4 linked regions of the Homo sapiens genome follow. The protein of the gene in region 1 interacts with the protein of each later gene in a pairwise test. Each region holds a gene or a part of one and is shown on either strand. Other genes may lie near its edges. The genes, in order: RBM41, RALYL, BICD2 and NINL.

Region 1 (7,028 bases):
CTAGAGGTTACCTGCATGCCTTGGCTCTTGACCCCTTCCTCACATTATCCTCTGCATACATCATCACATCTCCCATTCTGTCTCTGACCTTCTTGCTTCCTTCTGATAAGGACCCTTATGATTGCATTGGTCCCACCTGCATAATCCAGAATCATCTTCCTATCTCAACCTTAACATGATCACATTTGCAAATTCCCCTCTGCAGTATAATTTAACATTTTCACAGATTCCAGGGATTAGGATGTGGACATCTTTGGGGGGCCATTATTCAGCCTACCATAAGCAGGTTGAAGATGCTCCCTTCTAGTGTCAGTTAATTGAGCTTTTAAAAAATTATAAATGGGTATTGGATTTTGTTTAATGCTTTTTCTGCACCTACTGTGATGATCATGTGATTTAAGATTTAATCTATTGATTTTTAGATGTTACACCAATCTTTCATTTCTGGGATAAATCCCACTTATGTGTGTGTGATTATTTTGTATGTTGCTGGATGAGGCTTGCTAATATTTTATTAGGTATTTTTGCATCTATATTCATGAGGAATATTGGTCTGTGGTTTTCTTGTAATATCTTTGTTTAGTTTTGTTATCAGTGTAATACTGATATCATAGAATGAATTGGAAAGTATTTCCTTCTCTTCCCTTTTCTGAAGTGTTTCTGCAGGATTAGTATTATTTCTTTAAGTATTTGATAGAATTTACCAATGAAGCCATTTGGACCTGGGTTTTTCTTTGTGGGTTGTTTATTGAGTACTAATGCACCCTCTTGTTATTCGTTTTTTCTTTGAGACTGCTTTGGTAATTTGTATCTTTCTATGAATTTGTCCATTTATCTAGGTTTCCTAATTTGTTGGCCTAAAGTTATTTATAATATTCCTAAATAATTGTTTTTCATTCCCTAAAGTTAGTAGTGATGCTTCCTCTTTAATTATTGATTTTAGTCATTTTTGTCTTCTCTCTTACTTTCTTGTTCAGTCTAGGTAAAGGTTTGTCATTTGTTAAACTTTTCAAAGAACCAGCTTTTGGTTTTGTTGATTTTTCTCTATTTTTCCATTTTCTATTGCGTTGATTTATTTCTTAATCTTTATTGTTTTCTTCCTTCTACTTGCTTTCTGTTTAGTTGACTCTTTTTCTAGTTTCCTAACTTGGAAGCTCAGGTTTTAAATTTGAAACCATTCTTCTTTTCCAATACAGGCATTTAAAGCTTTAACTGTCTATCATATGGATGCAGCATTGTTTTAGCTGCATCCATAAATTTTGATATGTTGTGTTTTCATTTTCATTGAGGTCAAAATATTTTTAAATTTCCTTTATGAGTTCTTTGACCCATGGGTTATTTAGAAGTTTGTTGTTCAATTTCCAGATATTTGTGTTTTCCCGTTTCTTACAGTAGTGGATCACTAATGTATGTCCATTGTGGTTACAGAACATACTTTATATGATTTCAGTCTTTTTTAGTTTTTTTGAGACATACTCCTACCTTGAGACCTTACTCTAATATCAGTATGATAGATGCCCTTGCTTTTTTCAGGTCTTCACTCAAATAGCACCTTCTCAATGGGACCTATCCAGACCAACATTAAAAATTACAACCACCCCATAGCTCTTCCAATCTTATCTTGTATTTTTTTTCTTTTTTATAGCACTCCTACCTTCTAACATGCCATGTAATTCACTTAGCTCTACAAAGGGAGGAATCCTTATTTATTGATGCATCCTTAATTATTTTTTAGTGTATTTATTAATCTATTCATCCACTTGGACATATGTAGCTGAAATTTGTTCACTTTCTTTGGATGATAGTATTTCATCATATAAACGTACCAGAATTTTATAATTAATTCTTCTTAGATGAACATTTGTATTTTTGCTAACTCTGGGCAATTATAAATAGCAATGATCTGAAAATTCTTATTATTGTGTCCTGGTGCATATATGCCTACATTTTTCTAAGGTATATATGTGGGAGTTGAATTGATGGATTGTATGTTGAGCATATCTTCAACATTAGTAGATGATGTCATGTTGATTTGCACTGTGTATACACATTCCCACTAGCAATATGTGAGGGTACCAGTTGCTCTACAACTTCACTGACATGTAATGTTGGCATTCTTTTTAATTTTTGCCAATATGTTGGTTTTCTATTAGTATCTTATACCCTTCCTAATTTGCATTTCCCTGAATTCTAATGTGGCTGAGCACTTTTGTATATATTTATTTTATTATTTTTTTTAATTTAGAGACAGAGTATCACCATGTTGCCCAGGCTGGTCTTGAACTCCTGGGCTCAAGGAACTTTCCTCCTGCCTCAGCCTCCCAAGTGCTGGGATTACAGGCATGAGCCACCACGCCTGGCCCACATATATTTATTAGCTATGTGTATTTCCTCTTTTGTAAGGTATCTCTTCAGTATTTTGCCCATTTTCCTAATGGTTGTTCATCTTTTTCTTATTGATTTGTAGGAGTTATTCATGTATTTTAGTTTTAAGTTCTCTGATAATTCTTTGTGTAGCAAATATCTTTTCCTATCCTGTGGGGTTTTTTTTTTTTGGTCCATCTCTTTATGACATCTCGATGAACAGAAGTTCTTAATTTTAATGTAGTTGAATTTATCAATCTTTTCCTTAATGGTTAGTGCTTTTTGTGTCTTAGGAAATACTTACATAACTACTCCTATGCCTTGCTGGTGGAAATATAGAATAGTATAACTCCTACAGCGTGAAATTTAACAATACATAGAAAAATTACATACACATTTGCCCTTTGTCTCAGCAGTTTCACTTCAGGGAATCTATTTTAAACATATACTTGAAAAATACCAAATCCTGTATGCACAAAGCTGTTTATCAGGACATTATTCATAACAGTATGAGACTAGATATAAGACCAACGTGTATCAGGAGGGGAATAGTTAAATAAACTATGGTACATCCACACAATGGAGTACTGTGCAGCTTTACGAAGGAATGAGAAGAGCTCTACACATTAACATGGAACTATCTCCAGGACATATTGTTAAGTGCAAAAAAGTAAATTGTAGAACAGTGCTTATAGTAAGTTACTTTTTATGTAGGAGAGAGGTATAACTAATGAATTATGTATATGTGTATATATGCCTATTTGCTTATATTTTCAAAAAAGAAACAATGGAACCATAAGCCAAAACCTAATAAAAATTATTATTTATGGGGAATGAAGGGAATGGGATAAAGGGGACAGAGATGGAAGTGAGACTTCTGTGAAGGTACTGTATAACAGTTTCACTTTAGATCCATGTAAATATTTTGCATCATCTAAAAGTTTAATCAAAAAGGTAAAATTCAATCCCTAAAATTCAAAAACAACCTGAAGCAAATGAGCCTAATGATAAATAAAGTTAGTAGCATAAACACACAATTGGAAAACAAAGCAGTTACTTATAGTGACTTTAAAACATTTGTATATTTCCAATGGGACCCATATTCTAAGGGCAAAAGTAACTGCAAAAGAAATATAAAACTATATTCAGCAGTTTTATTGGTGATAGTATTGTTATTGACATTGTAAAATTCTGTAAGTATATTGTAGGAAGAAGCTAATGAATAATTTTGCTAATATTAAGCATATGAGAGGAGATACACTCTAAAATAAAGGAGTTTAAGTAAAAATCTTGTTATCTTAAATTTGAGTTGGAAATACCAATATAAACTCATGGTTTACTTTTCTCTTTAAAAATGTCCCTCTTGCTCAACAAACTAACACAAGAACAGAAAACCAAACACCGCATGTTCTCACTCATAAGTGGGAGTTGAACAATGAGAACACATGGACACAGGGAGGGGAACATCACACACTGGGGCCTTTCGGGGGGTGGAGGGAAAGGGGAGGGAGAGCATTAGGACAAATACCTAATGCACGCGGGGCTTAAAACTTAGATAATGGGTTGATAGGTGCAGCAAACCACCATGGCACATGTATACCTATGTAACAAAACTGCATATTCAGCACATGTATCCCAGAACTTAAAGTAAAATTTAAAAAAAAATAAATAAAATAAAATAAAACCATTCTAGTGGATCATTTTAAAAAAAATGTCCTAGCTTTTGTCCACTGAAAAGGCCTGGAAACAACAACTTGGAAGTTGCTTCTGCACACACCAGCAACACACTTTGGTTTCTAAATACCACTTCCTACTAAAAGGAACCAAGGGTCCCTACAAAAATATTCCAGGTTTGAGTTAGGAGGTATGCAAGATGAGCTTAGGATATTTGGCTGTGCCAGAAAGCCGAGAAGCAATACAGGAGCCGATTTGAAGGGGCTCCCACTGGTCTTAAGTGGGATAATTTGGCCACTAAAAAGAATAATGAGTATGTTTAATTGACACAGATAAAGTATATGAAAATACACGATTTCATTATTATACTAAAAATAACCATTGGTCACCATTGGACATTTTTTTTGTTTTGAGATGGAGTCTCACTCTGTCGCCCAGGCTGCAGTGCAGTGGCGCGATCTCGGCTCACTGCAACCTCCGCTTCCCAGGTTCAAGCAATTCTCCTGCCTCAGCCTCCCGAGTAACTGGGACTACAGGCACCCGCCACCATGCCCGGCTAATTTTTGTATTTTTAGTAGAGATGGGGTTTCACCATATTGGCCAGGCTGGTCTCAAAGTCCTGACCTTGTGACCCGCCTGCCTCGGCCTCCCAAAGTGCTGGGATTGCAGGCATGAGCCACCACGCCCGGCCTCCATTAGACATTTCTAAGATGTCAACTCTTACTCTCATAATTGGTAAATAATGGCAAAGAATCAAGCATTTATCCTGCCATTCCCATATGATCTACATTTTTAGGGAAACCACATAGTTGATGATGGTAAGTTCATTTTAGAATTACGGATAATAAGCGTAAAAGAAAGAATTAGGAAAGCCATGATTTGCAACTCTTAATAAATTAATAGACTAGGCAGTGGTCATCAGTGGATGTAAAAAACCCATTAGGTGGAAGGTGAATGGGAAAATTTAATAATGGAGGGATGAGACTAATGCCATCTACCACCTCAATCCACTGATCAATTTCAGTATCACTAAAAATAGGACCACCAAACGTTATGTGTCTTATGACATGATACAATAGGAAGTACATATCTGTCTATAAAGGATTATTTCCTAAAAATATTGAACCTGAACCTAATCAAACCTCTGGATCAGCACTGTCCAATGCAACTTTCTAAAATGATGTAATAGTTTTTATCTGTTCTGTCCAATATGGTATCCACTAGCCACATGTGACTGTCGAACACTTTAAATTTGTTAAGTTCGGCTGAGGAGCTGATATTTAAAAATTTATTTAAATAGACACATGTGACCAGTGGCTACTATATTAGGTAGCATAGTTATGGATTATCTGCCAAGAAATAGAAGGGATTAAGGAACAAGTTAAACAACACCATCAGAAAATGATTAATCAAATTCATTTGTTCATAGAACAAATGTAGTTTATTTAATCAATGGATGAGTGAGAAAATGAAATAAAGGGATGGGAGAGACGAGGCACTGTTTTAGAATAAAAGTATCTTAAGAGATATAACAGCCAAAGGCTAGTTTAGATTTTGAATTGAATAAACAAGTATAAAAAAATCTTAGATGGAATCAGGACAATTTGAACATAACATTGGTATTAGATGATACTAAGGAATTATTAATTTTGTGAAGTATAATGCTATATTGCTTATATGTTTTTAAATGTCCTTATCAATTAGAGGTGCATATATTTGCATGACTCTAGGTGCCTCACTTGCCTCACCATAGTTCTGGCCTATAGTTCTGCTTGAAATATACTATAATAAGATAACTATTTACCATTGTCATTTGTCACAGGTTGTAAAGACCTGCCCCAGCAGTGTTTCTTTATCTGAGGTCCAGGATTTAATTTTTATTAATTTGCCAAAGGTTGTATTGGTAGGCTTTGTAGAACTTCCCTATCTCTTTGTCTTGATCCAGATGAACCCCAAAAGAAGAACAAAGGTGATCCCATGAACAACCTGGAAAGTTTTTACCAAGAGATGATAATGAAAAAACGTCTTGAAGAGTTTCAACTTATGAGAGGTGAACCCTTTGCTTCCCACTCACTGGTCTCAGCTACATCAGTGGGTGATAGTGGCACAGCTGAGAGCCCATCATTACTCCAGGACAAGGGAAAACAGGCAGCACAGGGTAAAGGCCCCAGTCTCCATGTGGCAAATGTTATTGATTTTTCACCTGAGCAGTGTTGGACTGGGCCTAAGAAGCTGACGCAGCCAATAGAATTTGTCCCAGAAGATGAAATCCAGAGAAATCGTTTGTCAGAGGAAGAGATCCGAAAAATTCCTATGTTTTCTTCATATAATCCAGGGGAACCAAACAAGGTATAGGCCAAACCAAGTAAAACAACCTGGGTTGATTTCGCTTTTATTTACCTCTACCTAAAGTAATACTTTTAAATTAGCTTTGATTATACCAAAGAATCATGATATAGGCACAGTGATTGTGTTTGTCCTTGACCTTGACTATTCATTCTCTGCATACTATATAAGTAGCATATTTCCTATAAGGTTCTTGGTACTTTGCTAAGGTCCTGAACTATCCTTAGCGTTTTAAAGAAATCTTGATAAGACTCTAGTCCATACCCATTAGAAGCCCCGAATTGAAGGAATAGTAACATCCAATTTCCTACAGTGTAATAATCAAATAGTGTTCATAGGACCACCATAGCTGGTAGCCTTGGTGCCTCTGGAATTAGCCAATAATTGACTGCCTGGTCGTGAGTTGGGTATATGCTACCACATGAGTCTTCTCTTCAGAATGCTCTACCTGGCTGTCATATGACATATGACTTAAATTGCTGTTGGCAAAGCAGCAAAGTGAAAAGGTCCTATAAGCTTTAAGAAATTGTCCAACAAGGCCAGGTGTGGTGGCTCATGCCTGTAATCCAAGCACTTTGGGAGGCTGAGGCAGGCGGATCACGAGGTCAGGAGTTCGAGACCAGCCTGACCAACATGGTAAAACC
Region 2 (7,028 bases), on another chromosome or scaffold:
TTCTTATTTTGTATAGTGAGCTAATTACTAAAATACAGTCTTTCATATGCCTCAAACAGCTAACATAAAACATTAAAAAAGCCACTTGCAACATTCTGTGATTTTAAAAATCATTTCAATTATAACAATGTATGTACATAGAAATGCTCATTTATTAAAATGCAAGACAATTTATGTGTATAATATATTTTTGTATGTTTTATGTATTGTAAGTCGTTTAGTTCTTTTAAGAGAGAGAGAGACAGAGCAAGCAAGCAAGAACTTGAATGATCGAACCTGCATTTTCATTAAGAGAATCAGTTGCTGCCCTAAGGTTGAGGTAGTATGTGGTTTAAGATTGGGCAAAGCACTAGCTGTACTGTGTGATATTTCCCAATGAGATTGAAACAATTAATGGGACCAAAGACGATTTTAATGTGAGGACAGAGAGGTAGTTGTGCTTTAATTTCTGTAACTTAAGATCATTCTAAGAACCTTTAGTTATCTATGTTTTCATTTATTTAAGATTCATTTTTAATTATATTGTAGACTTGTATTACATTTCTATCTATTACATTCAAATTTTTCAGATTTCTTCCTGTGTGAATCATTCTGGGAATTCTACAACTCTTAAACTGGCCACCTGTTTAGTTTTTGATTTAAAATTGTTGAAGGTAGTATCCTAGATTTAGCACCGCCTACTGGCTTCTCATGGAAAAAATGTATTTTTTCATTCGCCAAGCGACCCACAGGGATTTAGATCAATTTAATTGTGCAGATCTTTTCAACTGCTTACTAAGCGAGAAGGAGGGAAAAAAAAGTTTCTATTTTGTAATGAGAGAGGGTTTCCAAGGTAAAGGTGGGGACTGAGGGAAATAAGACCCACAAATTAAATTGGCATTGGATCACTATCTGACCTCAAACATTGTACTATCTAAACTGTGACAAAGAAATAATCACAAAATGAAAACCTGTTAAATTTTCAAGAACTTTTTATGGGATAATAAAATGTGGGTATTGTTTAAAATCTTGGATTACTAAATTAATTTTTCAATGTCTATCTCAGTCTTGATATAAAGAAAGAAAGTTCTAGTTGGAATTCTGTCTTGAGTGTGTGGTCTGTTGAAGAATATTTAAATGAATAACTTTTCATCATTGAAGATTAACAGTTAATTATTTTTCATATTTATTTTTTATGGTCATAATCAAGTAACACCCTGATTTTTTTCTTAACATGCATCAAATAGCCACACCGTGGTGGTGTATATACAAGGGGGAAAAGTTCCAAACATAAAATTATAAAGACACATCCTTAGCCATAATAGATGTGTTACCTTTCTTAAAAATGATAATTGGTTTATTTTCTCTAATTTATATGAAAGTCTAGTGGTTAAAAGAGCTACTATAATAATACAAATAAATGATGCCTTAAGAATATACAAATTGTTAATTAGAAAAATAATTTGATATGCTAAAATTTTCTTCCTAATTAAAAGAAATGTGAAATATTTGGATAGCTGTTCCTTAAATGCAATATTGACTTATTTTAAGAGCCAGTAGTAAGTATATAGAAATTCCAGTGAGAAGTATAGGTCTGTTGCGTTTTTGCAACTCTACCCCAGTAAAAGTGTGGTCATGTTTTGTTTACTGTTTACTGATAGTGTAAGCAACTAATTAAGCAGGGCATTCATTGATATAACTCTACATTTCAAGTCTTCAAAAAGCTCCATTATGGAAGTAGAAGAGAAGTGAAGTGGGTATGTAAGATTGTTTGAATAGTAAGGACGAATTTGAGAAAAATATTTCAATTACAATTGATTTTTCTCTCTGACTTTTGAAACTTTTATTTTTATTTTAGTTGTTTATTTTTATTTTTTCTTTCCAACTTTTAGTTTCAAGGGGTACATGTACAGTTTTGTTACATGGCTAAATTACATGTCACAGGGGTTTGCTGTACAGATAGTTTTATCGGCCATGAAATCTTTATTTTTAAATGATGATTAGCTGAGACTTTAAAAATAGTTATTTCTTTACTTCTTTTATCATACTGTCATTATGAAAACTCTGTGTTTTGCTATGAAAACCTGAAGTAATGATTAATTTTATTCTTCAAATTTTTATGGACTTCCAGAAAGTAAATAATAACATGTTTAAAAAGGTCCTTATTGATCTGCAGTTATTGTTATTATTCTCTTATTACTGTTACTATCTACTACTTCCAGTGACCTGTACGAATGCTTGTAAAGATGCCATTTCCATAATTCAGTTTGATTCTTTGATTTAATAAATTTCTCTTCAGTAATTGGCAGGCAACATAAACTTTCATTTTATTGGCAATAACAACAGTTTGTTTTGCTAAATCATGATTTTGAAAACAATATTCAATAACATGTAAGTAATATCTGATTTCTGAATGTATCAATAGCAAGTTACACTGTTAACAAGTTTACATAATTATACTTGTCATCACCCTTCCTTTTATTATTAAATTTTGATGTGCAGACTGCATAGATATAACACAGCTATTGCCAACTTTAGTAGTTTTGCTTATCCTCATTGCTTTTAGATTTTCAATAATACATTGGGAATTTTGTTTTCTTTTGTTAGACTTATGTTAAATATCAAACTTACCTTGTGGAAAATTAACTTTGTGTTTTTCTAAATTCTTCCTTACGTTTAAAAAGATTTTTGTTTGCTAGTTTTGAATTATCCTGCTATTTTTCTGGGACTGAGTCCTGGAAAATAGAGGCATTGGTTTAATGTCTTTTTCTATCCATTTGTAGCCACAGAGATGGCAGTTGGAGGACTTGAGTTAGTATTTAGGATTTACATTTTCTGGGCTGTCCTTGCAGACTCCTCAGCTGGGGGTCAAGACTCTAAGAGTTATTTATTTGACCATGTAAAAATCTAAATAGAGAGGAAAATTATGGAGTAGAACGTGGAAGTCTTGCACTGGTCTTCTGAAAGATACAATAGCATGCATCACTAAGTGCTCTTATATTACAAAATACTAGAGATTTTCTGTGCATAAATATGTTTGGCAAAATTCCATTTAACTCACTAATATGCTTTTTGCTTGAATTCTTTCCCAAACTTCAGAGTGGGAATTGATTGCATTCATACATAATCCATGTGTTTAGAGAAAATGTTTATACACATTTTGATAGCCATATGCTAAATAATAAGAGGAGCAACACATTTCTGAGTCATTTCGGAAATTATTAACAGGTGGGAGTAAGGAACGGCTATTTTTTCATTAAATCAAGATGAGAGGGAAAGAAATTGATGTGTCAAATGAATGCAATTCCATTTGTACTTCCCTTCCGTGATTAGATAATAGTATTATTTTATATGTTGGAGGAAACTGAGACTTGGAGCTCAGAGCTCCATAGGTGGTAAAGGGAAATTTGACATGTAGGAAGTCTTAACTGACGACTCATGTTTTTTTTTTTTTTCCTACACAGATATGCTTCATTTGTGGAGATGATTTTTTTGTTTCTTTTGTTTTTCCTAATATAAAACAACTGTTATGTATTTATTCTTGATACATTACTTAAGATGTCTGTAGTTTGGCAAGTTTTCAACAGGGAGTGCTTTCCACTAGTGAGTGCTTTGAGCAGAAACAAAAGAATATTGCCCCACACAGATACTCTTAACTGGTCCTGAAAGGACCTTTCTGTGACCATGTCATCACACATCTCTTCAAGACGGGTTTTCTGAAGAGAGCCAATGCATGGCATCACATTTGTGAGTTACCACTGTTGCTCTGTGGTTGGGTCAGAAGAGACGGTTCTCTGTCCTTAGTTGCTTTGCAGAGAGCCTGGGAAACACATTCAGCATTTACTTACTGAGTACAAAATGTAATCTCTACTCTTGGAGCTTTTGCAGTGTGATGTGGAAAATTAGTCTTTTGTGCAAGGAAAGCTGAACAGCTAATTCTTTCATAACACAGAGCTCTGTAAATATAGGTGTCTTGTCTGTCTACCAACATCTCACCATCAACATCATAACACCTCACAATTTTACTGTTACACATATTTGTATGTGACATTTATCAAGCTCATTTTATGTTAGTAACATAAAACACATATAAGTGTAACATATTATTTGAGGATTCTGTGTTTAATTGCCTCTTCAGATGTGCAAGAATGTCTTCCATCATTAGTTTCCTTGGAACTTGAAAAAGTGAATACTTTCAATGCAGAATGGGAAACATAAACTATAGTGGAAACAGTGTGAATGCACATGATGAGATGGATTTTTAAAGACTTGGTCATAAGTCCTCACGTTCATAAAATCAGTGGATTTAGAGGTCAAAGTATAGGGAGGGTTAAATGCTGCCTTTGAATTTTGGAATCTGGATATCTTGAAAACAGGTGGTATAAAACAAAACAAGAGAAAGTAGTATCTGTAGGAGAGCCTTATTTGGTTGGAGGTGGGAAAATGATTCAATTTTGAACATAGTAATTTGAAGTTCTGACATTAACTTCTGGATTAAATGACCAATGTGCAATGGAAATTCAGGTCTAGAGCTGGGAAGCACACTTAAGGCTAGAAGGAGATATGACAGTATCATCTACATTAAAACTCTTTAAGTGGGAATAAGTCCTGCACAGGTAGAAATTTGGGAACATCTGCTTTTTTTTTTGAGTGAATGTAAAAGGGGCTGATAAAGGGCAGAAAAATAGAGTTAGGATGATAGCCACTGAAGCTCAGAAAAAGTATGTGGGGTGTGTGTGTGTGTATGTAAGTATTGTTCAACAGAGCTAATGCTGCATAGGCTCAAAAGAAGATAAGACCTGAGATAAAAGCTTTGTAATCTGTCATTAAAATCCATGAATTTTTGAAATAAACTAAATGAATGTGATTGATGATCCTCAATATGATGTGGCAGCGTCATAAAGAGGGCTGTTGTTCCCAGGATTGTATGTGTCGTGTGTGTGTGTGATTGTGTGTGTGTGTGTGTGTGTGTGTGTGTGTACAGTGATAACATGATCTAAATAGGAAGACCAGTAGGAAGTTTTTCCTGAAACTAGCTAAATTGATTTGAAATTTATATTTATATGCAAAAATAGCAGAGAATATTCTGAGAAAGAAGAGAGGGCTAACCTGTTACATAATAAAATACACTATAAAGCTTTAAAAATAAATATATTTACTAGCTATGTCTACTGAAAAATCTTCAAAGCAATGTCTTTCAGGAAGCAATGAGCCCTTCTAGTGCACAAAGCATGGCTTCTTAATATCATTCCCCATTCAAGAGGACAAGAGCCCTTTAGTCTTCCTTAACCTAGAATTGGCTGATTCTAAGTCTGGGCAGAAAAAACACAAGATGAGCCTGGGACAACTCACTGCAGAAAGTAAGGAAATGGTCAAAGACAAATAAGGCTGTATCATTGTAAACAAGTGCTAGCTTGAAGGGCCTTCCAGTTGTGCAATTTAAATCAGTTTGAATTTCAAGAGTGAATATAACAAATTGTAAACGTTGAGTAAAGTAAAATCCATGAGTGCATAATGATACTCTAAATAAATATATAAAAAAGAAAAATGACAATTAATAATTAAATTGAGATAATTAAATGATTAGCCTGCCTTTCTTAGTTGATGAGGGACAGCTTTTTACAAAATAATGTGAATTAAGTGTAAGAAATGTAAGAATTAGAAAATTACTATTTGTAACTCTCAGTGAAGTAAGTGATTCAGTCAAAGATGATCAACAAGTGATAAAATAATCAATTAAAATTATTTTGATGAATAACATATTCTCATAGTGCTCAAGTATTAATTGCATCTGCAAGTCATCGTTTTAAGTGACTGAATGATTTAACCCAACATCACCAATAGACAACCTGACACTATGAGCCTCCTGACGAGATGCCATATAAAGGCTATAGTGCCATTTGTGAAATATTGTTGCTAGAATGTCTAACCTGAATCTAATAAAACCTGGTTAGATTTAACTTCCAGTTTATAGAAAAATTCAGAGAAAGGACCAGTTAAACTAAACCATGAGGAAATAATGAGACAAATGCATAAGGTGAGGTATTCCACATTGAAGATACATACCAGCCCTGTGGCCTAGACTTGTAAAATGTCAGTGCCACTGTGGGAGGACTTTTCCAGATTAAAAAGGACTAAAGACAAACAAATGCAGTGCTTGAAGATTTATTTTATTTCACTTTTTAAAAATGTGGTCTATAAAAAGTCAAATTTTGGTAGAATTGGGAAATTTTTCATATGGGCTAGAAAACAGATGATATTAGCAGATGAGTGCTGAATTATTTGGGATAAATGCAGTGATACATGAAACTGAATTTTCTTTTTTTTTTTCTTTCTTTTTTTGAGACAAAGTCTTGCTCTGTTGCCTAGGCTAGAGTGCAGTGACACGATTTCGGCTCACTGCAACCTCCGCTTACCATGTTCAAGCAATTCCCCTTCCTCAGCCTCCTGAATAGCTAAGATTACAGGCGTGTGCCAACATGCCCAGTTATTTTTTGTATATTTAGTAGAGACAGAGTTTCACCATGTTGACCAGGCTGGTCTTGAGCTCCTGACCTCGTGATCTGCCTGCCTTGGCCTCCCAAACTGCTGGAATCACCGTGCCCAGCCCGCAACTGAATTTCTTATGAGTCATCAAAGGAGTGAGGGAGGGAGTGTGTGTGTGTGTGTGTGTGGGGGGGGGGGTTGTGTACGTGTATATGTAAAATAATCATTTGTTAACCAACTTTAAATCAGGGAGTGCTTATGCTGGTTTTATTGTGTTATTCTTTCTAGTATTCCATCTATTTGAATTTTTTTTCGTAAGGAAAGTTGAATAGTCTATTAGTTGCCATTGAGAAAAAAATATGTTTATTGAGGCTAAATAGAAGCAGAAGTCCAATTGCCCATGTTTAAGGTCATCTGGGATCTTGAAGATATGGAGACAAAAAAAATGAAGTTTAATGTTAAATTGTGGGAATGAAATATTACTCATCGAAGTAATATTATTGAAGGAAGGATATTTTTAAAGCCACAGTAAGGAAAATATGAATGCATCTTTATGTTTTTCA
Region 3 (7,028 bases), on another chromosome or scaffold:
GGGCGCCCGCCGCCACGCCTGGCTAATTTTTTGTATTTTTAGTAGAGACGGGGTTTCACTGTGTTAGCCAGGATGGTCTCGATCTCCTGACCTCGTGATCTGCCCGCCTCGGCCTCCCGAAGTGCTGGGATTACAAGCATGAGCCACCGCACCCAGCCTATCTTCTGAAAGTTTTATAGTTTTAGTTCTTATATTTAGGTATTTGATTCATTTTGAGTTAATTTTTGTGTATAATGTGAGGTAGGGGTTCAGCTTCATTATTTTGCATATATGTATCTACTTGCCCCAGCATCATTTGTTGAAAAACTTTTTTTTTTTTCCTCTGTCGTCCAGGTTGGAATACAGTGGCGTGATCTCGGTTCACTGCAACCTCTGCCTCCTGGGTTCAAACCATTCTCCTGCCTCAGCCTCCCAAGAAGCTGGGATTACAGGCACCCGCCACCACGCCCAGCTAATTTTTTTTTATTTTTAGTAGAGACGAGGTTTCACTATGTTGGCCAGGCTGGTCTCGAACTCCTGACCTCGTGATCTGCCCGCCTCGACCTTCCAAAGTGCTGGGATTACAAGCATGAGCCACCGTGCCTGGCCGAAAAACTATTCTTTGACATCAAATTATTTTTGTACCCTTGCCAAAAATCAATTGACCATATATATGAGGTTTTATTTCTGGACTCTATTCTATCCCGTTGGTCTCTGTATCTATCTTTACACTAGTACCACATTGTTTTGATCACTGTAGCTTTGTATTAAGTTTTGAAATTGTGAGTTCTCTCACGTTGTTATTCCCTTTCAATATTGTTTTAGCTCTTCTAGGCCCTTTGCAATTCCATATGAATTTGAAAATCACCTTTTCCATTTCTGCTAAAAAGGCTTTGGAATTTTGGTAGGGATTGCATTGAATTTCAAGTTAATTATCTTTTAAAGAGATTTAAATAAGAAAAATAAGTACTTTATATTTGCCTATTTAATTATCATTTCTTCCATGTAGATAAAGATTTCCATATGGTATTATTTTTCTTCTGCCTGAAGGATTTTATTTAGCATATCTTTAAATACCAATGCATATCTGCTGTTGATAAATTCTTTCAGCTTTTGTATCTCTAAAGTATTTCACCTCTATTTGTGAACAGTTTTCAGTGAGTATAGCATTCTAGTTAAGTTTTTTTGTTTTGTTGTTTAAAAGATGTTGTTCCACTATCTCCTGGCTTGTTAGAGAAATCAGCTGTCATTTATCTTTGCTCCTCTTGAGTCATGTATCCTTTTTCTTCTGGCTGATTTAAATATTTTTATTATATAATTGGTTTTAAACAATTTTATATTATGCCTTGGTGTAGTTTGCTTCATATTTCTTGTGCTTGGTGTTGACAAGCTGCTGATATCTGTGGGTTTATAATTTTCATCAAATTTGGAAAATTTTCAGCTATGATTTATTTCTTCAATTACTTTTTCTATTTTCCCCTTTTTCTCCTTTGGGTACTCCAATTACTCCTTACATAAGGCTTCTTGAAATTGTGTCATACTTCATACTTCACCAATGCTCTGTTTGAGTCTTGCTTTTGTCTTTTAGCCTTTTTTTCTCTGTGTTTCATTTTGGATAGTTTGCTGTGGTTTTTCAAGTTGACTGATCTTTTCTTCTGCATTGTTTTATCTGCTGTGAATCCCATCCACTGTACTTTTCGTCTCTAGAAGTTCTATCTGGATCTTTTTCTGTCTTCCTCATTTGTGCGCCTTTGCCTGCTCAGTGGTAAGTGACGGGATGCCAGCCAGTGGACCTCACCTGTTGGGAGATGGATGTTTTTGTATTCCTTCATGTGTTCTTGAGCTTTGTTCTGGGATGTAGTTAAGTGACTTGGAATCAGATTGATCCTTTCAGGTTTTGTCTTTATGCTTTGCTCTGTGGTATCAGAGCAGATTTAATCCAGACTAATTTTTTCAGGCCCTGGGAGTGCTCCCCAGCTGCCTGTGCATCAGGAGGGCTCTCCTCTGCTGTTGGGAGCAGGTACTGTTTTTGGCTGGTATAAATGGTGGGGATTGCTTTCTCTGCCCCCTCAGTGGTCCTTCAGTGACTTCTTCAGCTCTGTGCTCCCTGGTCCTCAGTGGAGATTCTGGCCCTGTGTGCAGGTCTGCCTAGCTTGGCTGCCCTGCTGCCATCTTCCGCCATCTTCCAGTCCCTCCTTGACAGGGTCTGCCACGCCTTGCCTCAGTCTCCCATTTTTCCATGGCTGGGAAGTTCTTTTGGTGGAGGGGGCTCCTGGAACTCCCCTCCTCCTGTCTCTCACTATCTAGTGCCCATGATGTGAAAACCACTGCTTATTATTTATTTATATTCTATCATTGCCTGGTTTTTTTCTTTTTCTTTTTTTTTTTTAAGTTTTCACACAGAAGGTAGTTCTAATTTCTGCAACAATCTCATCTTGGCTGTACGCGGAAGTCTGTATCTCAGTGTGTTTGAAAAGCTGCCCAGGAGTGTTTTGGGCCCCAGGCTGGGAGCTTAAGCAGAGGAAAAGATCCAGGGCTCAGGCCAGGAGGCTAGGACTTGAATGTCGTGTCATGGCATTTAGCTGTCATACCTGGAGGAAGCTTCTGAGGTGATGTCTGCATCCCCAGCTCCAGGCTCGTGGGTGTGTTCTGAGCAGCCATGTGTGCTGGACCCTTCATTTGGGTCCCTCCTGCTTGTCAGGAGGCCCAGATGGTCTGGCGCTGCCCATGCCGCCTGCAGCCGGCGGGCCCTTCACCCAATGAGGGACTTGGGGCCTGGCTGCCACTTGGGTGGGGAGCCTGCAGCTGGGGCCAATTCCATGTCCGGTTTCCCTTCTTGTGGCCCGGGGTGGCTGGCCAGGGTGGATGAGGTGCTGTGTAGACATTATGATTTGGACCTTCCTTGGGACTAGGATAAGGAAGAACAGAGCAGAAATCACAGAGCTGACCCGATTGCCTTGAAGAAAAGCGGACATCTTCCACGTAGTGGGTGTTGTGTTGATGGGTGGGGGCAGGTGAGCAAGACCCAGCCTCCTCAGGAGTGTGGGTGCCATAGACATCTGTGCATCCGCAGCAGGAGTGTCCATGTCAATCCCGAGTCCCCCCGTGCAGTCCCATTGCCAGCACCAGTCTTCCTGCTGGGCTGTGTTGTCCTGTTAGCCTTGTTTAGGGGTGTCCCCCGCAACACCACGAGACACACACACACAACACATACATCACAGCACATGTCACCACACCTGCCATAGCACATGTGTGCTCTTCCAGGCAGGATCCTGTGATCCTCACAGTGCTGTAAGATCAATCAGTCTGTCTTCCCCTTGAGTCCCCTGTTGGTCCCATGAGAGTCTATACTCAGACTAGACCCTGGTTTCTTTTACCAGTCTCCTGTTGGGACGAAATGAGTTACTCTTTGTTTTGATTTCTTGAAATTAGAAACTGTCCTGCTCAGTAACATCCTTATTCATGGTTTTTTACATTTTCCCTATTTTCTTGGACTGAATTCTTAGATTTAATATTAAATAGTAAATGAGTGAAAAATGCTCCTTTTTCTCTTTTAGGAAAACAAAGCCATCCGCTTTCAGTCACCTCTCTCTTGATCTTGTTTTCTGCCATGAGCCAGGATTAATGTAAAAAGATAAGGTCTTCTGCAAGAGCTCTGTGGTGGAGTGGCCAGTGAGACGGGCTGCTGGGGGTGACACACTGCGGCCCGTCTGCCCTCTACCCATGGAAGCCCTGTCCTGCCACGCCAGCTATGTGGGGGTAGTGGGCAGTGGGAGGGAAGGAGAGGGATGGCACCTGCTTGGAGGCTGGGCCACTCGCCTGGGGTGTACACGATGGGAGGCTGGCTGGCCTGGATTTTGGGGCATGGACATGACACAGCTGTCGACTCTCAGGTGCGTGGGCAGGTGGGCGTCCTGGGCTAGGTGAGCACCCCTTTCTGGTTGATCTCACCCATAAGGTCTCCTCCCTGAGCCCCAAGGCCCTGCACTTCTTTGCCACGTGCAGCCCCCGCGCCCCTTGTTCCTCACCCCTCTGGAACATGCTGGTATCTTGGCTTCTGAGCCAGGAACTGGGCAGAGTGGGTGGTACACTGTGCTGGCCTCTGTCTAGTTCTTACCATCACTGCCATCCTCGGGCCTGGGGCTCTGACTGCTCAGCCCAGGTCTCTCCCAGAAGGAGTGAAGGATGAGCCAGCATCAGGCAGCAGGATGGACAGACTCCCTCTGCCTTTCATATGTGGTGGCCGGCGTGCCATCTGGAGTGGGGAGAAGGTGGGGGCTGTGTGGGAGCTCCCTCTGCCGGCCCCCAGCTGCTGTCACACATGCCCACTGTAGCTCCCTGACTCCAGCACTTGTCTTGCCAGTGCAGACACTGTTCCTCAGAGACCAGGCTTTCTCTTATTTTGGTGAAGCAGATGAACCTTGGGTGCAGCTTGTTGCATTTGCATATGTGCACACCACAGTGCACGCCACAGATGCACCTCCCAGGTCAGGGGGCCTCCCTTCAGGCCCACAGTCCCCGTTGTTGTTGCTGTTGTTCTGCAGCATGAATGTCGCCTGTGAGCTGGGTCTCTATCCTTCGGCGCCCCTGGGAGGCCCACCTCACGAGTGTCTTGTCTTCTGATGCAGGCCTTTGGACAAGCACACACAAACCACAAGAAGGTGGCTGCTGACGGAGAGAGCCGGGAGGAGAGCCTGATCCAGGAGTCGGCCTCCAAGGAGCAGTACTACGTGCGGAAGGTGCTAGAGCTGCAGACGGAGCTGAAGCAGTTGCGCAATGTCCTCACCAACACGCAGTCGGAGAATGAGCGCCTGGCCTCTGTGGCCCAGGAGCTGAAGGAGGTGAGGGGGTGAGGAGGGGCCTAGTCTGTGGCTGCAGCAGTGCCACCAGTGTCACATAGCAGGTGTGCCTGGTGGGTGGCTGGGCTGGGCTGGCCTCTGGGGACGCTGCAGCTGGCTGGTCTGTCTTGCTTTCCTGGTCTCATCCTCCACTGCACTCCACTGCCACTGTCCTCCACGTGGCAGAAGGGAGAGAGATGGACCCACAAGTTCCACTGCCTCTGGCTTGCTTCTGTCTCACTCATGAAGCGAGTCCCATGAGCAAGTCCAGAGCAGAGGAGTGGTCAGTCAGGGAGGGGTGCAGTTAGCCCCTTGTGGAGGCTAAGGGCTGATGCCCATGGGGCACTCCTCGTCATTGGACTCCCCCCTGCCCTGGGAATGTTTTGTGTCACTCAGGGCCTGCACTGTGCCCAGCTGTAATAAGAACACAAACCCCAAATATTCCATGGAGACTCGAGGTAGGGTGTGCGTGTCTGAGAATTAGGGGTGGAGACCACCGCCAGTAGCCCCAGCTGCCACACCCCTGCCTTGTTCACAGCAGAGTGCCCGCAGGGAGGGTCTGGGTGGGTGGTCCCTGGCACCAGAGCCTGTTGGAGTCCTGGGTACCCATGGACAGCCATTGGTACATGGCACAGGCTCTACATCTGGAAATGGGACTGTGGTGTCCGTCCATGAATCCGTCCAAGTCCGTGCATGACTTGTGAACATGAAGTCAGAGGAACCAGCTTGGCTCTTGGGCCCTGATAGGGGCAAAGGCCACAGGACCAGCTGCTCATGGCCCTGACACTAAGGCCCTGGAGTTGTGGAGGACTGGGGAGCCCAGGGGAACGATGTGGCCAAAGCAGGATTTGGGAAGGTTGCTGTGGTGCCTGGAACCTGTGTAGTTTGAGCCCAGCAGGAGGAGGAGAGCCAGGAGTCTCCATCCACTGGGGCAGGTGGGAGGAGAGTCTCGCTGGCTTGAACAGGAGGCTCAGGGAAGGTTGAGTGAGCACCTGAGTGTCTTTTCTCACTGACTGGCACATATTTTAATTGAGCCCTGCCAGGGCCTCGGTGTCTGTGGAACCTGAGGAAACAGTGTGAGCAAAGCCTCATTCTCCTAGAAGGCATGTGGCAGATATCAGGGGAGAGCAGTACCCCGTGCCTGTCCCTGGGGCAGGGGCATGTTCACTGTGGTGCTGAGCCAAGGGCAGGAGGAGTGTCAGGAGAGTCCTGCAGGCCTGGGTGGGGCCCTGAAGGAGGCAGGGTCCAGCTTGGGTTTGGTGGCTACACGGGGAGTGGGCTGTGGGGACAAAAGTGAGGCTGAGACGACTGTCTTGGGGGCAAGAGGGGCCAGTGCCTTCTGAGGAAGGATGAGGCCCCATCACCAAGATGGAGGTGGGATGGTCCCTGGGGACTGCAAGTGGAGCTGGAAGTTGGCACGTGAGCTGCAGTCCTCCTGGCCGTGGCCTTTGAGGGTCAGCCCCAGGTTCTCATTGGGAATGGCTGGAGGAGTGGAGCATGGGTCGGTTGAGAATGGGCTGATACTGGCTTTGCCTTTCACTGAGCCTTGGGGCCTGGGCAAGGCCTTATCTTTAGTCCTGGCCTCAGTTTCCCCATCTGTAAACCGGCAGTCTCTGAAGCCCGTTGTAGAGGATGCCCCACAGGTCTTTCACCCCACATTGTGGGAGCACTTATGGACCCTTGTTCCTGACACAGGAGCACCACCCTCTGCAGCAGATAATCTTACGGGAGGTCAGCAGGGCATAGGCCCTGAGGGTATGCAGTGATTAGGGCTGCTGCTGTTGGCTTAGCATTCCAGTACTGAAGGATGCTGCCCTCGGGGTCAGCAGCGGAGTGAGGGGTCAGAGATCGCTGAGGCCCTAGGGGCCCAGGGAGGAGCTTGGCTTAGACTCAGGGTGGGGAGTCTCAGATCCTGAAGCGGCAGTACATGATCTCATTTCCTCTCACAAGGAGCCCTCTGGTCGGTGGGAGGAGGGGCTGTGTGTATGGAGAGATGTATCCTTGGCTGCCCCAGCTGCCATCTGTCTGGCCCGTCTATTCCTGAAAAGCGTGTGCAGGTGCTGTCTCCCCAGCCCAGCACATTCTGCCCCTTCTCTCTTCCAAGAGGCCTATCTCTGGTGGCAGAGGCCAAAGAGGGCTGGGTGACCCTGCTGGCTTCAGGTAAGACTGGAAATGAGCACAGCAAGTTAAAGATGCTGCAGGTCTTGTGGG
Region 4 (7,028 bases), on another chromosome or scaffold:
CCCAAGGCCCAGCAGCTTCAGGGAATTAGGGGACAGTTTTGGCTCTGGGTCTCCAGCGCTATCGTGTAGAACCCACTGCAGTGTGGGCCACGTCGTATGTCTGCCCTGTCCAGTTGGGAGCCTTGAGGGCTTGGAACGTGGCCTGCACGGCCGAGGGGCTGCAACCAGGTCCTGCATGGTGGCGGCCATCTTCCATGTGAACACTCCACATGGAAAGGGTTCGTGCTTGGGCTTCCATGTGCAGAACCTCGCTCCGTGGGGCGGATCCTCGTCTGGACTCTGAAGTAGGGCCCAGGGTATAGGTTGAAGCCAGGGCTGAGGGAGGCGAGGAGGGATAAAGAAAGCCAACCACAGAGAGGAGGTCGCAGCCGTTGCAACAGCTGGGCAGACTTCAAACCCGAGAGAGGGGCTGGGGGCGGCAGGGCTGTGGTGTGTGACGGTTCTACTTCCACAGGAGAGAGGCTGAGGCGGAGCTGAGTGGAGAGCTGTCGGGGCTGGGAGCCCTGCCCGCTCGCAGAGACCTGACCTTGGAGCTGGAGGAGCCGCCGCAGGGACCCCTGCCACGCGGGAGCCAGAGGTCGGAGCAGCTGGAGCTGGAGAGGGCACTGAAGCTGCAGCCCTGTGCGAGCGAGAAGCGCGCCCAGATGTGCGTATCGTTGGCCCTCGAGGAGGAGGAGTTGGAGCTTGCCCGCGGGAAGCGAGTGGACGGGCCCTCCCTGGAAGCAGAGATGCAGGCCCTGCCGAAAGATGGGCTGGTGGCAGGAAGTGGCCAGGAGGGCACACGTGGCCTCCTACCACTGCGTCCGGGCTGTGGGGAGCGGCCACTGGCCTGGCTGGCCCCAGGTGATGGCAGAGAGTCTGAGGAGGCGGCAGGAGCCGGGCCTCGCCGCAGGCAAGCCCAGGACACAGAAGCTACGCAGAGCCCGGCCCCCGCCCCTGCCCCGGCATCCCACGGCCCCTCAGAGAGGTGGTCACGCATGCAGCCCTGTGGAGTGGATGGGGATATTGTCCCAAAGGAGCCAGAGCCTTTCGGCGCGAGCGCAGCGGGGCTGGAGCAGCCTGGAGCCCGGGAGCTGCCTCTGCTGGGAACAGAGAGAGACGCCTCGCAAACCCAGCCACGGATGTGGGAGCCACCCCTGAGGCCGGCCGCTTCGTGCAGGGGACAGGCTGAGAGGCTACAGGCCATTCAGGAAGAGCGAGCACGAAGCTGGAGCAGGGGCACCCAGGAGCAGGCCTCGGAGCAGCAGGCCCGGGCCGAGGGCGCCCTGGAGCCTGGGTGTCACAAGCACAGTGTGGAGGTTGCCAGGAGAGGGTCCTTGCCATCCCACCTCCAGCTCGCAGACCCGCAGGGTTCCTGGCAGGAGCAGCTTGCTGCCCCAGAAGAGGGGGAGACCAAAATAGCGCTGGAGAGAGAGAAGGATGACATGGAAACCAAACTTCTACATCTGGAAGACGTCGTCCGGGCTCTGGAGAAACATGTAGATTTGAGAGAGAACGACAGGTTTGCCTTCTACTCATTCTTAAAACTAAACACTTCAAACTAAAAATGCAGAACTAACCCACTGACCCCTGTTGCTAATGGTGCTATGTGGCCCTTCCTGCCGACAAGCTCGCAGCCCCTGATGGGGGCTGTGTAGCCCTTCAGCCTGAGTAGGGGTTGTGAGCCCAGCCCCGTCCCGGAATGCCACGGTCATCTGGTGCTCTACCACTGGGCAGAGGGAGGGCAGGACTGCCTTTCGGGGTCCTGAACCCACCTTCCGGGTTCAAGATATTCTTGTGCATCAGCCTCCCAAGTAGCTGGGATTACAGGCACCTGCCACCACGCCTGACTAATTTTTGTATTTTTAGTAGAGACGGGGTTTCACCATGTTAGCCAGGCTGTCCTCAAAGGTGATCTGCCCGCCTTGGCCTCACAAAGTGCTGGGATTACAGGCGTGAGCCACTGCGCCCGGCCCTCGCTTCCAAAGATTTTTCATTGTTGTTCCCAGAAGAGGCTGTATACCCATTAAACAATAACTTTTGCTAGTATTTTGTTGAGGATTTTAGCATCAATTTTTGCATCATAAGGGATTGGTCTGCAGTTTTCTTTTCTGGACTGTAGTGTCCTTGTCTGGCTTTGGTATCAAGTAATGCCTCATAGAATGAGTTTGGAAGTGTTCCCTTCTCTTCAATTCTTGGAAGAGTTTGAGAAGAGGTGGTGGAAGTTCTTTTTTAAGTGGTAGAATTCACCAGTGAAGCCATCAGCTCCTGGGCTTTGTTAGGAGGTTTTTTTGTTTTTTGTTTTTTGTTTTTTTTGAGACAGAGTCTCGCTGTGTGGCCCAGGCTGGAGTGCAGTGGTGCTGTCTGGGCTCACTGCAACCTCTGCCTCCCAGGTTCAAGCGATTCTCCTGCCTCAGCCTCCTGAGTAGCTGGGATTACAGGCGTGCACCACCAGGAATCAGGAATTTAAAACCTCGTAACAACTAGGGCACGGTGGTTCATGCCTGTAATCTCAGCACTTTGGGAGGCCAAGGTGGGTGGATCACCTGAGGTCAGGAGTTCAAGACCAGCCTGGCCAGCGTGGTGAAACCCCATCTCTACTAAAAATACAAAAATTAGTGTGGTGGCGTGCGCCTGTAATCCCAGCTACTCGGGAGGCTAAGGCAGGAGAATCGCTTGAACCCAGGAGGTGGAAGTTGCAGTGAGTTTTGAGATCGCGCCACTGCACTTCAGCCTGGGCAACAAGAGCGAAACTCTGTCTCCAAAAAAAAAAAATACAAAAATTAGCCGGGCATGGTGGCATGCGCTTGTAGTCCCAGCTACTTGGGAGGCTGAGGCAGGAGAATCGCTTGAACCTGAGAGGCAGAGGTTTCAGTGAGCCGAGATCACACCACTCACTGCACTCCAGCCTGGGTGACAGAGCAAGATTCCATCTCAAAAAAAAAAAAAGTTCCTTTAGTGAAACTCTGTTTAGAGTAAATTTCCTGTTTTTGCTTATCTGAAAAGTATCTTAAATGTTCCTTCATTTTTGTAAGACAGTATTCTTAGGAACGCACATCTAGCCATTAAATGGCCGCCTCTCCACCCTTGGAATGTCTGCTGTCCGTGTCAGAGACCCGGTTGCTGACACTGCATGGTTGGCCCTTGGTCCGTCTGTTCTTCCTTCGTGTGCATTTCCACGGACTTGGTGGCTTAACAAGGCACAAAAGTGCGATGTTTTAGTTTTAGAGGTTGGAAGAGGAAAGGGTCTCCTTGGGCTAGGAATGAGGTGCTGGCAGGGCTGCAGGGCCATCCAGAGGCCCCGAGGGGAGCTCCCTGCCTCACCTTCTCCAGTGGCCTTGACTTGAGGCGTCCTTCCATCCTGGAAGCCAGCCCTGGATGGCCGAGTCCTCCTCATGTCACCTTACTCCAACACTGACTCTTCTGCCTCCACTTTCTACCTCTAAGGACACTTGTGATTACGTTGGGTTCCTCTGGAGAATCCAGAATAATCTACAGTCAGAGAACGAGCAGCCTTCATTCCCCCTGCTGTGTAATGTCACATAGTCTCTGTTAGAGGCCAGTATTGTGCCATCCACAGTAGGTATCTGACTTTTGTGCTCTGGTTACTTCTGAGACCTGTATCTTTAGTGGTTTTTATTTGCTGTGTGCATTTCTTTCTTTTTAACTTTTTATTTATTTATTTATTTATTTTTTTGAGACGGAGTCTCACTCTGTTGCCCAGACTGGAGTGCAGTGGTACAACCTCAGCTCACTGCAACCTTTGCCTCCCAAGTTCAAGCAATTGTCCTGCATCAGCCTCCCAAGTAGCTGGGATTACATGTGCCCACCACCATGCCCAGCTGATGTGTGTGTGTGTGTGTGTGTGTGTGTGTGTGTGTGTGTGTGTATGTGTGTATTTTTACTACAGACGGGGTTTCACCATGTTGGCCAGGCTGGTCTTGAACTCCTGGCCTCAAGTGATTTGCCTGCCTCATCCTCACAAAGTGCTGGGATTACATAAGGCCTGAGCCACCAGGCCTGGCCACTTTGTTTTATTTTATTTTATTTTATTTTATTTTATTTTATTTATTTTATTATTTTATTTTATATTTTATTTTATTTTATTCATTGTAGAGATAGTCTCTCACTATTTTGCCCAGGCTGGTCTCAAACTCCTGGCCTCAAGCGATCCTTCTGCCTCAGCCTCCCAAAGTGGATCCTCCTTGAAATTACAGGTGTGAGCCACCATGCCCAGCCTCTTTTTAACTTTTTATTAAAGTGTGATACACATAAGAAAATGTATATATTTGTACAATTAGGAGAATTGTCAACAAATTGAACACGTCTGTGTTACCAGCGCCCAGAACAAGAGATGGAATTCACCAGAGTCCCCGGGGTAACCACTTCTTACAGCATAGATTCAGTTTGCTTGTTTTTGTACTTTATGGAGAGGAATCATGCAGTGTGTACTCTTCTGTGTCTGACTTTCTTGGCTCAACCTGGTTGTGCGATTGATCTGTGTTGTTGCTGTAGTTCATACATTTGCATTGCTGTGTGGTATTCTGTTGTGTGAACATACCACAGTTTATTCTTTTCTCCTGTTGATGGGCATTTGGGTAGTTCCTAGTTTTTGGCTCTCACAAATGGAACTGCACTGAACGTTCTTGCATTTGTCTTTTGGAGCATTATGTTGGGCTGTACCTAGAAATGGGATTGTTATGTTGTGGGTATAGGCATAGTTTTCTTTTTGTTCATCCTACTTAGAAAACATTGTCCCAGCCAGGCACAGTGGCTCACACCTATAATCCCAGGACTCTGGGAGCCCAGGAGTTCAAGATCAGTCTGGGCAACATAAGGAGACTGTTTTCTACAAAAACTTAAGAAAAATTAGTCACACATGGTGGCACGCACCTTTGGTCCCAGCTATTTGGGAGGCTAGATGGGAGGATCACTTGAGCCTGGGAGGTTGAGGCTGCAGTGAGCTGAGATTGCACCACTGCACTCCAGCCTGGGCGGCAGAGCAAAAGGGAAAAAAAAAAAAAAAAGAAATATTTTCCCTGTTGAATGTATGGATTGCATTGGTGTCTCATGAAAATCTCTCAGCCATTACTATTAAAATATTGCCTCTCCGGAGGTTGCAGTGAGCCAAGATCGCGCCATTGCACTCCAGCCAGGGCAACAAGAGCAAAACTCCGTCTCAAAAACAAAAAAAAAGTATATATATATATATATATATATATATATATATATATATATATCCTCTCCTCCCACTATTTTCTTCAATTAGATATGTGACTGTTAGAGCATTTCACTTTATGTCTCAACCTCTCTTTTATATTTTCCATCTTCTGTCTGTATCACATTTGGGGTATTTTTTACATACCTATGTGTTCCAGGTCAGTATCTCTTTCTTTCAGCTCTGTGTAATCTGCTATTTAAACCATCCCATGAGTTTTTATTTTGACATTGACTTTTTGTTCATTTCTAAAAATTCTGTTTGGTCCTGTCTGATCATTGTCAATAGTTTCTTGTTGCTTGTTCATTGTTTGTTGCTGTCTTTTATTTATGTAAACATTTCATAACACTTATTTTTAGTTTGTGTCTAATAAGTCCAATACCTGCAGTTTCTAGAGGATTGAATTCTGGCTTCTGGCTTCTGCTGTCATTTATGGGTGGCTTTGCTCCATGTATGTTATGGTGATCTTTGATTGTGAGCTCATATTTGCTTGATGTTAATCTCTGGGAATATAAAGAGCCTTATATGGGATGCTATTGCTTTTGCAGAGAAGTGAGAAGGTGCTAATCTGGGACTGTCTGAACCTCCTTCCAGGGCCCTGTCTGGTGCAGGTGTCCACAGTGCAGCTTCTCCATTCTGCTAATAGCAGTGCTGACACATAGGCATTGGTTGCAAGGTCCCCCCAGCTTTGTGTTGCATAGTGCTCACGCGTTGGTTTCAGCTTCCAGGATTTTGTTTTGTTTGGAGATTCTTGCAGGTTTTCTTTTCTTTCCATGAGGACAGTCACAGAGGTTGCGATCAGCTTTGCGCAGGATCTAGTTGTTTGGTGGTCATGTGGGGGATGGGGTAGGGCACCCCTCAGCTTTCGGCCTTGCATCAACTTGTTCTCCATTCTAGAGCCAGAGTGATAGTTTAAAAACACAGAACTCTCCTGCTTGAAACCCTTTGCTGCCTTTAATTCCAGTGACTATTTATTTTTGTCTTTAGTTCCTCATGAGATAAAATGAAGGCATATGAAGAAGATACTTATGTTTACTATTATAAGTATAATACATAAAGCGGGCTGGGCGTGGTGGCTCACATCTGTGATCCCAGCACTTTGGGAGGCCTAGGTGAGAGGATCACCAGGAATTCGAGACCAGCCTGGGCAACCTATCGAGACCCCATCTCCACCACAACAAAAATTATCCAGGCGTGGTGGCGCATGCCTACTGTAGTCCCAGCTCCTGGGCCTGGGAGTTCAAGGCTGCAGTGAGCCATGATCGTGCCACAGTACTCCAGCCTGGGTGACAGAATGAGACCCCATCTCAAAGAAAAAACAAAAAAATACATGAAGTGAACATGGTGAGATCATGTGGCTTTCAGTATTTTCAGACTGAAAAAATAAGAAGCTAGTACCATATGGAGACCTATTTGGGGAATACACGTTAGCCTTACCAGTCAGTATTAAGAATGCATTCTCTGGGTAGCAAGTATGGGTCTTAAGCTACTTCACTGGTGATCTTTTTTGTTTTTTCACAGACAAGGTCTCACTATGTTGCCCAGGAGGGTCTCAAACTCCTGGGCTCAAGCAGTCTTCCTGCCTCAGCCTCCCCAGTAGCTGGGATTACAGATGCATGCCGCCACTCCTGGCTCCCATTAGTGATCTTCATTGGTAAATTGCCATCTTCATCTATCAAATCAATGGCATTACCCAAGCAGGGACTCCCTGAGTTGTCAGAGAACAAAGACGGCCCAGGCAGACTTGGTTCACATAGTGGCTGTCTATCCCTGCCTTTTCCCACTTTGAGATTCACCTAGCAGAGGTTTCCCATATATCTTGGCCTTCTGA

What was found.
Region 2: the proteins of RBM41 (region 1) and RALYL interact in binary tests that used the Homo sapiens proteins (3 or more experiments, as listed by UniProt).
Region 3: the proteins of RBM41 (region 1) and BICD2 interact in binary tests that used the Homo sapiens proteins (3 or more experiments, as listed by UniProt).
Region 4: the proteins of RBM41 (region 1) and NINL interact in binary tests that used the Homo sapiens proteins (3 or more experiments, as listed by UniProt).

The regions. Positions count from the first base shown.
Region 1 is NC_000023.11:107,087,795-107,094,822, reverse strand, and holds part of RBM41 (RNA-binding protein 41), read left to right. Parts: intron 1-5,932; coding exon of another isoform or gene 5,933-5,983; coding exon 5,984-6,387; intron 6,388-7,028. UniProt on the Homo sapiens protein: May bind RNA.
Region 2 is NC_000008.11:84,186,255-84,193,282, forward strand, and holds part of RALYL (RNA-binding Raly-like protein), read left to right. Parts: intron 1-7,028.
Region 3 is NC_000009.12:92,726,816-92,733,843, reverse strand, and holds part of BICD2 (protein bicaudal D homolog 2), read left to right. Parts: intron 1-4,607; coding exon 4,608-4,820; intron 4,821-7,028. UniProt on the Homo sapiens protein: Acts as an adapter protein linking the dynein motor complex to various cargos and converts dynein from a non-processive to a highly processive motor in the presence of dynactin.
Region 4 is NC_000020.11:25,470,516-25,477,543, reverse strand, and holds part of NINL (ninein-like protein), read left to right. Parts: intron 1-454; coding exon 455-1,501; intron 1,502-7,028. UniProt on the Homo sapiens protein: Involved in the microtubule organization in interphase cells. Overexpression induces the fragmentation of the Golgi, and causes lysosomes to disperse toward the cell periphery; it also interferes with mitotic spindle assembly.